Regions from separate parts of the Homo sapiens genome. Here region 1 is linked to region 2. The links come from fine-mapping of genetic effects on gene expression. Tissue or cell type: sun-exposed skin. Region 2 holds a variant in brackets; the other region holds the start of a gene. All regions are shown on one strand. Distances are from middle to middle.

Region 1 (2,907 bases), 49 kb after region 2:
GTGAGAATGAAGGTTGTCACTGTGGCGTGACATCTATAATTAACAGCTTCTGAAATTAAGCCAGATTCCTAAAAAATACAACATAAAGGGTCTTCAGAAACGCCTCTCCCTATAGTATGCTTGATGTAAATCCCCACGTGTACAAAGGCCATGTGTCTCTTTAAAGTTCAGGGGATGTCGAGGAGGTACCTCCTTCACACCTTCCACTGCTGAAGGATACTGAAGAGCTTGGAGTTGCTGAAGTCACCCAGGCATCTGGGCTAATGGATTGACAGACAAAAGAGGAGCCCATCATTCAATAATTAATTAGTTGCAATCATGGGAAGACAACGTCCCCCAGAGCAGATAGGACAGCCACCTCCTCCAACCTGGTAGTTTCAAAGCACCCAGGCCCTGGCTGCTCTCAAACCTCTTTATCCAATGTTTCCCCTCAGGGTCTAGCTGAGCAGTTACACTGGCTGACATTCTCTTAAGAAAGCCCAAGAGGAAATGTGCAGAAAAGACAATTTTCAGACCTTGTCTCACAGTCCTGCAGGCCCTGGGACAGGGTATCCAGGGATGTAGGTCTGGTCTAGCTGTATCCCTGTCTCGATAATATAGGAGACAAGGGTCAAGATCCTATCTCTCTGTGAACCATGAATCCTGGGAACGCTGTCAGTTCAATCAAACCCTGCAAAGTTGAATGAGATCATCTCTGGGAGAATTAGTATTTAGCAGAGGCTGCGGCTGGGGGTTGTGGAGAGCTGCTGCTGCCCTTTAGAAGCCCTTCCATTCCCCATCCCCTTCTCAGAAGAGAACCCACCACCTCCTCTCACCCAGGGGTACTCTTACCCTGATGCCCAGAAAAAGGACGACGCCCCCCCACCACAATTTTCACTCCTATCTCCAATTTCCTAAACAAAACCATCACAGCCAGGTACAGTGTCCACACACTCGAATGGAGCACCACCCCAGGCAGCCCCAGGGCAGGGGTTTCTCTCCCATCACCCTGGCCAGGCCCTGGTTCCAGCTGGTAGGCAGAGTGAAAAGGGGGTGTGTGCACGGGAGACTGGAGGGGAACAGGGACCCAAGTCCTCCGGAGGTGAGGAGAGGCTGGGTCCCCGCACCTGGGGTCACTAGCTGGGAGATAAAAACCAAGGCAGGTGGGGGTTCCTTCCAGGAAAGAGCCACACGGTGTCTCTCCCCTTCTCACCATTTCTCATTGATCAACCTTCTGTCTTCCCGTTCTCTCCCTTCCATCCCTCCCCTCCCTCTTTGTTTGCCTTCTCCTCGCCTCCGCGTTTGAGCACCCAGCCCTCCCCACGAGCGCGACTCGGACGCCGCAGTCAGCAGCTCGGGGACCCCGGCCCCGCGCCCGCCACCCGGCCCCCTGCCCTGACCGGCCCTCCCGGCTCCTGGTCTCACCCAGAAGAGCAGGTTGAAGCCAAGCAGCAGGTACTTGATGCACCGCAGGCCCCCGCGGAAGCGCCCCATGCTGCGGCCCGGCGGCGGGATCCCCAGTCCCCAGGCCCGCGCTACGAGCGCGGGGAGCGGCAGGCTCCGGCGGGGAGGGGGCGGAGCGGGGAGGACCGGGGCGGGGCCTCCGGGGGGCGGGGCGGGGCCCGGCGGGGAGGGGCGCGTGGACCCCAAGCGGCGTGGCTGGCGACGGGTGGGGGCGCCAGCGGGTGGAGATCGAGCAGCCCGAGGGAGCACGTTCGCTCTTCTCCCGGACCCAGGGACCACCTTCCTTCCCTCCAGTGGGCGCACCGCCGCCGGCTATCGGAGCACCTGCAGGGCGGGAGCGCCCACCGGGGACTGGGGACCCATTTAATCAGCGCCCTGTGCGGAGACCGGTTTGAGGCCCGGGCGATGCTTGAGGGATAAGCACTTGGTCTCGTGGCTATGGAAATCTAGGAAGGTGACCTCGGGTAGAAGAGCTAAGTGGGGTCGGAGGTTGCCCCGAAGCTGGCAGGACCAGTCGCGGGGCACCTGACTGAGTGTCCAGGGCTGCGGCTCCGCGGCGCGGAGCAAGCACACAAGCAGCTTCTAGGGGACCCTCCCTCCGGCCCCTCCCCCCTCCTCGGGGGACTCTTACCTTAATAGGCAAGAACTGAGAGAGGGTGCGGGAGGCGGCGCCCTGAGTCCTGTGGGCTGCCCTCAACCCAGCCGGCCAGTGGAGGGAGTCTGACTTCTCATGTCCTGCCGGGTTCCACTGATCGGAGGGCTTGGAAGGATCCCAAATTTTCGGGATCTTAATTATGATGTGGAGATGGGAGAAAGGGGAAGGGGGCGGTTTTTGTTTTGCTTTGTTTTTATTAAGTTAGGCTGTTGGCAGGAAAATCAGACTCCCACTTCCATTGACTAAGTGTCTACAATATGTGGTGTCAGACAGTATGGGGGAGACAAGAAAGCAAAATTCGGAGAGCTTATGCATAAATTCAGCAAAACTTTGAGTGCCTATTATAGGCCAGACATAGTAGCAAGCCCCAGGGACTCAACAATGAGGAGACAGCCAGGCCCAGAACCACAGTCTCTGGTGTTGGAGACAGATCTGTAAGCAAATAGGGTGAGGAGAGAAGGGCTGGGTGCTAGACAGGTGTGCCTGGCCTGACTGCCTTAACCAGAAAAGGCATTGCTAAGGAGAGGGGCCTGATCTGGTCTAGAAGACGGAGCCCAGGCGGAAAAGATCAGTCCAGGAAGACAGCATGCGCAAAAGCACAGAGCTGGAGAGAACAAGGCCTCCAAGGGAGTTCTGAGAACCGCAGTTAGCCCGAGTGAAGCCTGGTGGGGGCAGAGTGAGTCAGGAAGGCAGGAGCCAAATCACAGCTTTCAGTCGGCTGACCAATGTGCCAAACTGTCATTGGCCCCGAGTGTCCCCACGTGCAACATGGAGGTAATAGTACTCCCCTCATAGAGTTGTGAAGATAA
Region 2 (2,907 bases):
TATTCTTATAGTTTTTCCAAATGTACAAAATAGTAACCCCCAAAGTAAAAAACCAATCCAATATTAGTGTGGGTTTCATCTTATAAGGTAGAGTAGGCCCAGAGAAAAGCATAAGGACTCTAGCTATGGCTACTGATCTCAAGTCTTTGAATTAAAATAGAATTGGGAAAGATATCAAAAGCTATTCATTAATTCTACAAATAAATGTGTTCAAATGGATAATTGGTATCACAATGAAATATGTTCAGTTATGCATCATTTCTAGAAAGCTGTTTGACTTGTAATTAGCAAAAAGTTCTCCTTGGCTCACACCTGTAATCCCATCACTTTGGGAGTCCAAGGTGTTCAGATCACCTGAGGTCAGGAGTTCGAGGACCAGCATGGCCAACATAGTGAAACCCCATCTCTACTAAAAATACAAAAATTAGCCAGGTGTGGTGGCGCATGCCTGTAATCCCAGCTACTAGGGAGGCTGAGGCAAGAGAATCACTCGAACCCAGGAGGTGGAGGTTGCAGTGAGCCGAGATCATGCCACTACACTCCAGCCTGAGCAACAGAGTGAGACTCCATCATCTAAAAAAAAAAAAAAAAAGCAAAAAACCAAAAAACCAAAACCTCTCCTCATCAGAGTATTAACATAATTACAACAGATAATATTCATTACTTGCCAGGTATGCTAGGCATTTTATATTGGTAATTTCTTTTAATTTTTTTCCATTTAATATAAGAACATCATAAATTATACAGACAACGCTGCCTCCTGCCACAAACAACTACCAAAGCTTTGAAAGGATTTCTGATACATTAGCTAAAAACTTTATGAAATCAGCATAGATTATGCTTTGCAACATTCAGGACATGTTACTCCTGTTCTTCCTGGTTCCCCTATCCCCAGGAGATAAACTATATGAACAGTGGATTTCTGGAATGTATTTAGCCTTTGCTGTTATAATGAGGATATTTTTAAAAATCATTTTGCATTGGTGAAGTCTTTTTACCTTTCAAAAGAAACTTACATATAATACCTTACAGGTACATGTTATAGTAAAAAACGAAGGATCATGCTGAAAAAAAGTAGAAACCTTTTGTCCCTCTTAAAATCTAACTTAACATAAATTTGATTTGGATGAGCCCGAACTAAGATAATGCAGTTAATCTACTAGCTTTGAAGGCCCATGAGTGTTCTCTCCCAGGGGTGGC[G/A]AAAATGATGTTGTTGAAATTGAGGAGCTGGTGGTCAAAGAGGATGTCAAAGGGGCCATGAACCAGGAAAGCAGGGGTGTGGTGCACCTACTAAAGTTCCAGTGGCTTTCCCAGTGGCTGTGGAAACTCCATTTTACCCATGACAGAAGGGTACCTCTTCCTTTTCATCTTTGATAAACCTGTTTCAGAAGGGAAAACATGCTATCTCCTTCATTGCCATCTTCCCACCAGCCTCATTCTCACTCAGCCAAATCTATAAACACCGCTCACAGGGTAAGGAGAACAATTATAGTTGCTGACTGCATGGGGAACCACACTGGACCCTGCGTCAGTGTGCAATTTTATAGCTTGAACCATGGATAATAAAGGAGCAATTCTGCGGAAAAGAGGTATAATTTACATAAAAAATATGAATTAAAATACAACTATAGTTGATCCTCAGTATCTGTGGGTTCTGTATCTGTGGATTTAACCGACTACAGATTAAAACAATTTGGACCAAAAAAAAAAAAAATGGTTGCATCTGTACTGAACACGTATAAAATTTTTCTTGCCATTATTCCCTAAGCAATACAGCATAACAAGTATTTATACAGCATGTCCTTTGAATTAAGTAAACAAGTAATCTAGAAATGATTTAAAGTATACAGGAGGAGCTAGGAAGTGGGGCAAGATGCTGGAATAGAACCCTGCAGTGATAGGGCCCCCTACCTGCAGGAACATCAAATTGAACAACTATCTACAAAATAAAGCCCTTTCAAAAGAACTAAGAAATCAGGTGAGAGATCACAGCACTTGGTTTTAATAAAATAACAAGGAAAGATGCATTAAAGAGGGTAGGAAGGACGGTATTGCATTGCCTACACCACCCCATTCCCAACCCCAGGCAGTGCAGCACAGAGAGAGAATCTGCGTGCTTAGTGGAGGGAAAGCAAAATATGAGGGATTTTGCATTGGAACTCAGAGCTGTTCTGACACAGAACACAACACCAGGCAGAATTTCTCTGATGCTCAAGAAGGGAGCACTTCAACCAGTCCCGGGGCAGAGGGGAATCTTTTGCAGCAGGAGGAGGAACACAAGTCACAGCCGGCTTCACTACAGGCTGAGTAAAGTGGTCTGGGGTTCCAAATAAATTCAAGTGGCAGTCAGGCCATAATGACTTCCATCTTTGGGCAAACCCTGGTGTTGCATTGGTCTTGGAGGCAGTGGGATTGGGATGTGACCTGGTGCAACACCAGCTGCAGCAGCCACGAGAGTGCTGGTGTCACCTCATCCCAACTCCAGGCAGTGCAGCAAGAAGGGAGACTCCTTCTGCTTGGGGGAACAAGATGTTACTCTTTGTCTCGCGACTGGGTACCAGCCCAGCCACAGTAAAACAAAGCACCTAGCAGAATCTTGAAGCCCCTATTTCTAGGCCACTGCTCCTGGACCACACTTCTATACCCACTCCAGACCAGGAGGGAATCCACTGCCCTGGCAGGGCAGACCCAATTCTTGGCTGGCTTTACTACCTGCTGACAAAAGTGTCCTTGGGCCTTGAATAAACATCAGTGCAGTCAGACAATAGCAGCCATGGGCCTTGAGTGTCCTAGTCCTATGCTGGTTTGGGAGGTCATGGGTATCAGATGCAACTCAGCGCACTGCCAGCTGCAATGGCCAGAGTGCTTGAGTCACCCCTCCCACAACACCAAGTGGCCAACCCCAGA

Which allele goes with the higher level. Positions count from the first base shown, and alleles are read on the strand shown. Sizes are in standard deviations (SD) of each study's normalised expression.
As copies of A replace G in region 2, the expression in sun-exposed skin of the gene that starts at base 1,544 in region 1 goes down (small effect, 0.22 SD a copy in GTEx).

What was found. PIP is the estimated chance that this variant, and not a neighbour inherited with it, causes the effect.
Region 1: it holds the start of TSPAN2, and the variant in region 2 is the best candidate, but not a certain one, in a credible set for the expression of TSPAN2 in sun-exposed skin (GTEx, PIP 0.64).

The regions. Positions count from the first base shown.
Region 1 is chr1:115,087,960-115,090,866 of GRCh38, forward strand. TSPAN2 (tetraspanin 2) reads right to left here and starts at 1,544. Exons shown (of 8, transcript NM_005725.6): 1 at 1,405-1,544. The coding sequence starts at 1,473.
Region 2 is chr1:115,038,802-115,041,708 of GRCh38, forward strand. No RefSeq gene overlaps it. Among named protein-coding and RNA genes, the nearest start is that of TSHB, 10 kb to the left of the region's middle. The variant G/A (reference allele first, on the strand shown) is at 1,201.